Linked DNA regions of Homo sapiens. The protein of the gene in region 1 purifies or fractionates together with the protein of each later gene. This does not show direct contact. Each region holds a gene or a part of one and is shown on either strand. Other genes may lie near its edges.

Region 1 (3,500 bases):
ACAATTACTTCTTATAAATATGGATAGTGTGAACATTTGGATTCTCTAAGGCAGTGTTTTTGAGCTGTGAGTCAAAACCCATTAATGAGTTATGAAATAAATGTAGCTAAAATAAGAAGTACTAAAAATTTAATTAAATAGAATAGAAAATACCAGAAATGCCTCAAATGTAGTAAGCATAGTACTGCCTCTGAAACTGTTGTTTCCATTTCATATACTTGAGTAGACATATATATACAATCCTGGCTTCATTTACTATGTCATGATATGTTTTTTGGCTTATGTTTTACCTTGGGTTGTGGTCAGAATAATTTTAAAAACACTTCAGTAAGTTTTCTCTTGAGTTTCATACTGAAATAACCAAAGCAATGATTTTCTTACACCCATTACATGAATCTGAGTTGTGTATTATTTACCACAAGAGTGTTAAAAAAAGCTGACCAGGATTTATTTGCAAATTCAAGATTTTATCTTGAGCAAATCCAATAACTCACAGTGATTTCTCCACTGCCAGTCTAGCCTAGAATGCCATGATGACATTTTGAATCTCCAAGGATGCAGCAGGTACCTAGAAAGCATGAAGTTCCATGTTGATATTAATCCATTTTGTGAACCACCTCCTTTCATATACCATTTTAACCTTACTGAAAATGATACAGGATTACATGTCAGGATCCTGGTAAATTTATACTAGCAAAACTGCTTTAACTAAATGTGACCTCCCAAAGGTCACTTCTCAGAAAAGGGACAAGCCTAAAGCCTTAGAGCAATTCATCTCATTTATGCCTTTATTAAAGAAAAACACAGCCTCTAGTCTAGTGCCGTACTGTCTGAAGTCACTTCCTTGTATAACAGTACAATCTAATGGGAAAGCCAATGATAGATTAAAAGTGACTATAAGAGGCTGGATGCAGTCACTCACACCTGTAATCCCAGCACTTTGGGAGGCCGAGGCAGGAGCATTGCTTGAGCCCAGGAGTTCAAGACTAGCTTGGGTAATGTAGTGAGGCCCCATCTCTACAAAAAATTAAAAATTTGCTAGGCATGGTGGTGCACATCTGTAGTCCCAGCTACTCAGAAATTGAGGCAGGGGGAACTTGAACCTAAGAGGTTGAGGCTGCAGTTATCTGTGATTGCACCACTGCACACCAGCCTGGGCAACAGGGTGAGATCCTTTCTCAAAAAAAAAAAAGTGACTGGAAGAGGTTCTCTTATTCAATCCTGACAGTCCCTTTTTAAATGTTCAACAAAAGAATCACTAGTTAGCAGGAAGACTAACTTGAAAATGCAACTAAACCTCATAAATTCAAACAAAATCAGAAAGAGAGAGAGAGAGAGAGATGAAGTCAGAATTGTGGATTATTTTGTCAACAGAAATCTAACAGTACTATAAACATACAGGATTTGCCTAAGGGGAATGTGGAATAGTGTACTCACTATGTTCTTAAACCCTTGATCAATAGGAACAGTAAATGCCAAACTGGACTTGCAATCTGTTTTTGTGTAGTCTATGAGCTAAGAATGGTTTTTGAATTTGTATAGGATTATTTTTGAAAACCAATGGATATGCAATAGAGAATGTATATAAACCCACAATATTTACTGGATGGCTCTTTACAGAAAAGTTTGATGACCACTGAGATTAAGAGCACAGTCCCTGAAGACAGACAACCTGAATTCAAATCTCAGTTCCAACAATAAATAGCTGTGTAATCTTGGAAATTTACGTCTATGCTTCCCTTTCTGCATCTATAAAATGAGGATGAAAATAATATATACTTCATGAGGTTTATAAGAAGATGAAATGGGTCATGTGCATAGAATATTGCCTGGAACTAACTGCTTTTACTAGTAGTGCTATTACTTCTTAAAGAGTATCATAGCTCCCAGCAAATACCACCTTAAGCTGCCATGGTAGCACCTGGGTATTATCAGGCAATATGGAGGTAAATGGAATCAGCATCATTTCAATACATTTGGGGTTTTCATAGTCTCTGGTGTGGTGTCCTTGCATTGTTTTCTCTAACCTCTAAAGCAAAGTTAACCTTAGTGGTGTTTACTTCTTGAGTCTTTTACTTGGATCATGTTCCAAAACTTTCATTCTGGTTCATGGAGCTCTGAGTGTTAAGAAGACAGAAAGACCGTCTGGAGACACTGGGTCTTTGTGGGGCCTTGAAGGTAGTGGTTTAGTGTGGGCAAAGGCAGAGCCTGGTTCTCACTCATGCTGACAGGGCTGGGCTAGGGTATGTGGCCTGCAAGAAAACAGGCAAAGGAGATGTAACTCTGAGGCCTTCCTTAAGTGCCTCAGTCCTGCTTCGCACAGGTCTTTTCATCCCAGCCTTCACAGCCATTGTATCTGTACAGTATCCTAAAAGTTGCCTGGAGGTATACCACGTTAACACACAAAGCTGAATGCACCTTAATGTTGTGATAATTACTTGGAATATTGAAAAAGTAAATATCTAAAAGTACTTATTTCAGAGTTTTTCTTTTGGGTGAGTACACATTCCTTCACTAATCAACCAGGCACAGACATTCTATATGTATGAGGGATCTGTTTATGAGGGTGGTCAGTACATGTTTCATTTTTATGTCACTTTCTATCTTCACATCCTTATAGTGTATACAGTTGAGGGTACTCAGGCTCAGAGAGATGAAATAATTTGTTATGGTTATAACCAGTATAGTGACATATTAATGTTGAGGTTAGATTTTAAAAACAGAAAGTAAGGCAAAGACTTGTTTAGTCAAAACTACACATAAAAATCCTTTAGAAATGTACCTTTTTTAAAACCAAGAAAGTTTTTCAAAAAGTCCAACAGACAATTCTATCTCCTTTGTGTGGGTACCCAATAAGGCTCATTAACTGCATCTAGGAACTATTATTCGGGAAAAAATAGTTTAAACACTAAAATCACACTCTGCTCATTAGCAAGTTTATATTCATTATAGTCACATGGAAAGTTAAGACCAACTATGTGGATAACTGGTTGAATGTTTTTGCAAAGCCATACCCAGTATTTGAGTGGAGGAGTGGGTAAAATCAACTCACCTGAGTCTGCCTAGTTGCACTCAGGTAAATTCAATATCCACCTTTCTCATTCTGGACCCAGGCTCTTAACCACTATTTTTATAGCAGTCATCTTAATGTTATTCTTATTGTATAACATACCTACCCATCCCAAAGGTAGAATCAGAGGAAACAAGGTGGGATTTCTTCCTGTCTCTTTTTAGAATTATATGTTGAATCAAGGTTTCCAAGTCTTTCCCTTAGCATAAACCATGCTGATTCTGAAACCCAGTGATGATACTTTTTATTTCCTTTGTTTTATTTCACTTACCATCTTCTCTGTCTCAACATGCTGTGCAATAAGCAATGTTAAAGGAAAGAAAAAAGGAAACCCTTTTTAGAGTCTGTTATAACACCCTGATGCTTGGAATTTCAGAGAAGACCCTTGTAGAAGGTAAGGCAGGAATGCCCTTTTTTTCTATTTTTGAGG
Region 2 (3,500 bases), on another chromosome or scaffold:
CTGCTGCAGCCTTTGCTTAAGAAGACTTTAGGTGGCTCACGTCTGTAATCCCAGCACTTTGGGAGGCCGAGGCGGGCAGATCACGAGGTCAGGAGATCGAGGCCATCCTGGCAAACACGGTGAAACCTGGTCTCTACTAAAAATACAAAAAATTAGCTGGACATGGTGGCGGGCACCTGTAGTCCCAGGTACTCGGGAGGATGAGGCAGGAGAATGGCGTGAACCCGGGAGGCGGAGCTTGCAGTGAGCCGAGATCGCGCCACTGCACTCCAGCCTGGGCAACAGAGCGAGACTCCGTCTCAGAAAAAAAAAAAAAAAAAAAGACTTTAGGCCTCTGAAGATGGAATAGAAACCGCTCTGTTCCTGAGCACCAGGGGCTGAGCTTGGCCATCTAGGGGAGGTCCTGGAACCTGCATTTCCCCAGGCTCTCAGGTGACTCTGACACTGGTGTTGGCAGTGAGGGGTCCCTTGGGACCTGCAGTGTTACCATCAGGAAGGAGGGGTCCCCAGAGCCAAAGGCAGCTCCTTCTGGTCCTTGTGCTTGTTGATGACAGGAAGTTGAATGTGGCTTTTAGTTAAAACAAAAAACTGTTCTGGAAACCAGCTTGGTTTCAGCTCATCACTGTCATCTGAACAGCAGAGAAAGAGACACGTGTATGGAAGGGGTAGCATGTGTTCAGTGTATTTTTGCTGTCAGATTAGCGTTTTTTTTTGTTGTTGTTGTTGTTGTTTTGCTTTCTTTCCTCACATTACATTAATATGGCTGTCCATTGTTTTCTTTGTAAAAACTACATTTTATGGCTTTTTCTGACTATAAACTTACCTATTTTTGGTAGAAATTTGAAAAATACAGAGGAGCATAACAAAAAATAATTATTTTTAATATCTTAAAGCTAACCACTATTAACTTTTTTAAAAAATAAAATGTATTTACTTTTGCTTGAGATTAACAGAATTTTAAAAATGAAGTGAAACTCAGTTTACGCTGAACTTCAAATAAATTTCCCTTCCAAGCTCATGACGTTAGTTCCTAAAAGATTGTGGTAAAGTTACAAAAAGGTTATGAAAAATACTGAAATTGGTATTTTTTATTTAACTACATGTTTCCTAAAATGTAGGCTTCAAGTCAATAAACCTTTCACTGTCTTACAGTTGTCTAAACAGATATTAAAAGCTCAGTTTTTAATTTAAAATTGTTTAAAAGTCAAACCTATTTTTAGGATGATTTGTTTAGAGAAATTAACAAGGAAATGTTGATCATTAAGAATTAACACCCCAAAGAGGCCACTCATCTTCAGGGAAGAAAACAAGCAGTCCAGCAGGTGGTGAGCGAATGCAGCTCTTTGAGAGCCTCCGATGGAGTCAAGGAACTGTGAAGAGGACCCCCCAGGGAGGGGGCTCTGGGTTTGCTCCGTGCAACTGAAGGCAGGGAGCGGGAGAATGGGTGCTCTCCTCCTCTGCCTGCTCTGTCTGGAGGGCCCTGCGATGCTGTTTCTTCTCATGTGTGCCCATTCTGCAGGCGAGGAGACCAAGAGCTTGGAGTGCAGGGTGGGGGGCTAAACCCAGGTGTGACTAATTCGAAACACCACTCTCACTTTTTCCTCATTCAAGACGGACTGTTTGGCAGGTGCTAGGGGAGATGCAGGGTGGACTCTAAGACAGGCCCCGCCCACAGTGGTGGGGAGGCAGAGCAGGCCTGGGGCACAGGAGAGGACACCAACCTGAGGGTAAAATGGGTGAGCAGAGGGGCAGGGGATGGGGGAGCAGCTGCAAGGTGGCTGAACTGGCCTAGGGGAGGAGGGAGCTACGTGCTGGGAAGAGTTGGGGAGACCCCGCTGGAGGCTGCTGCTGGGTGCAGAGGGTGATGGTGGTGATGGCCGCGATGACGTCAACGGAAAGAACCCACGGACCGTCAGGCTTGTGAGAAGAAACAAAAGGCACATAAAATCCGTCTGTATAGAAACAATGCCTGGGGCAGGCCAGGCCTGCTCGAGGGGAATGGGGGACCTGCCATGTGCGAGGCTCGCACCAGGAGCCTGCCGGGGCAGCCTGACCCCAGCCCACCACTGCTTCTAATGCGGGGTGGGAGGGGAGGTGGGCCATGCCTGAGACAGGTAGGGAGCTTCCAGACGTAGAAGCTGGAGGTGAGGCAGGGGCGGGCAGGGCCTGATGATACCAGGTGCTGAGCAGGCCCCAGGACACATGGTCACAGGAAGGCAAATGAAACTGTCCCCTAAGGTTGACAAGAATTGCATGCCAGGTTCTGGACAGAAAGATACTCATAATTAAGCTTGAATCAGGCTGCTGCTGGCCCAAGATGTTTTTCAGATCCCAATTCCAGCAACCAGTTTGGAAACCCCCCACGGAGGAACAGGATCATCACGAAAATACAGCTTCTTCCTCTCCCTGTGCTGTGACATCACGCTGCCCCTTCCAGCTATCGAGCTCCAGAACCCTTAAAAACCCGGGCCCCAGCCTCCTCGGGGAGATGGATTTGAGTTTCCTCCATCTCCTTGTCTGGTGATCCTGCGATCACCCTGCTTTTCTGCTGCAGCCCCGTGTTTCTGAGCATCTACTGGCTGTGTGCATGGGGCAAAGTCCTGTCCGGGTGCCCGAGGACCAGTGTGCAATGGGGTGCAGATGTGAAGCTGCCAGGCCAGGGGAGTTGCCAGGGCCTCTGCCCAAGGCAGCAGGGAGCTGCAGTTTCTGACAGCTGCTGGGCATGCCCTGGGCAGGGTACGTTCCTGTCCTCAGAGCATAGGCCCAGTGGCAGAGCTGGCACTAAGCCAACCTGAGGAGAGAAAACATGGGCAGGGATCGCTGTGGTGGCACCAGGCAGACCCTTCCCACCTGCCTTTAGTAGGAAAATGGGTGGGCACAGCGGGGGCTGGCATTGCCCACCTCCTCCCTCTTTCAGGAGTGTTCTAGGTGTGGCCGGGAGGTTGGGAAGCCCCTGCTTGTGAAACCATCCCTGAGATGGGGACCTGGGTGCCGAGAGCTGGACGCAGATGGTCCCTGCTGGTGTCCCTCCCTGTGTCACCTCAGGGGGTGCCCTTTCCATGGGCCAGTACTGAGCTGGGTGGGGAGACCCTTTGAGAGGGGCCCCATCGGCCCCCATCACCCAGAGCATAAGGTCTGCATGGCTGTGCCTGAGCACTGGGGTGTTGGGGGGGTGCAAGTCCAGCTTAGAGGTGCTGGTGTTCACTCTGCCCACCTGGAGACGCTTCACCCCAAGCCCTCTCACATGACACCATCAAAATTCAGAGAGCCTGGGTCCTTGGGGCCACACCTGCCCGCTGTGCTCTTGGGTCTCTGCCTGATGGCTAATGGCGGAGTCTATCTTTTGAGGGCACACACATGCCCCTGGCACAGACAGGACACTGAGCTCTACCAGATCAGTCCCGACCTTAACCCACTGGGACACACCCGGAGTTTGAATTCCAGCTCTGCTTCTCACTGGCTGTATGATCTCAGGCAAGCTGCCTAACCTCTCTGAGCCT

The links. Proteins that work in one complex are often made in the same cells at the same time.
Region 2: the proteins of STK32A (region 1) and CST7 purify together in Homo sapiens (affinity purification with mass spectrometry; one large-scale study listed by BioGRID and IntAct). This does not show direct contact.

The regions. Positions count from the first base shown.
Region 1 is NC_000005.10:147,273,026-147,276,525, reverse strand, and holds part of STK32A (serine/threonine-protein kinase 32A), read right to left. Parts: intron 563-3,500; exon of another isoform or gene 541-562; coding exon of another isoform or gene 495-540; intron 1-494.
Region 2 is NC_000020.11:24,952,269-24,955,768, reverse strand, and holds part of CST7 (cystatin-F precursor), read right to left. Parts: intron 1-3,500. UniProt on the Homo sapiens protein: Inhibits papain and cathepsin L but with affinities lower than other cystatins. May play a role in immune regulation through inhibition of a unique target in the hematopoietic system.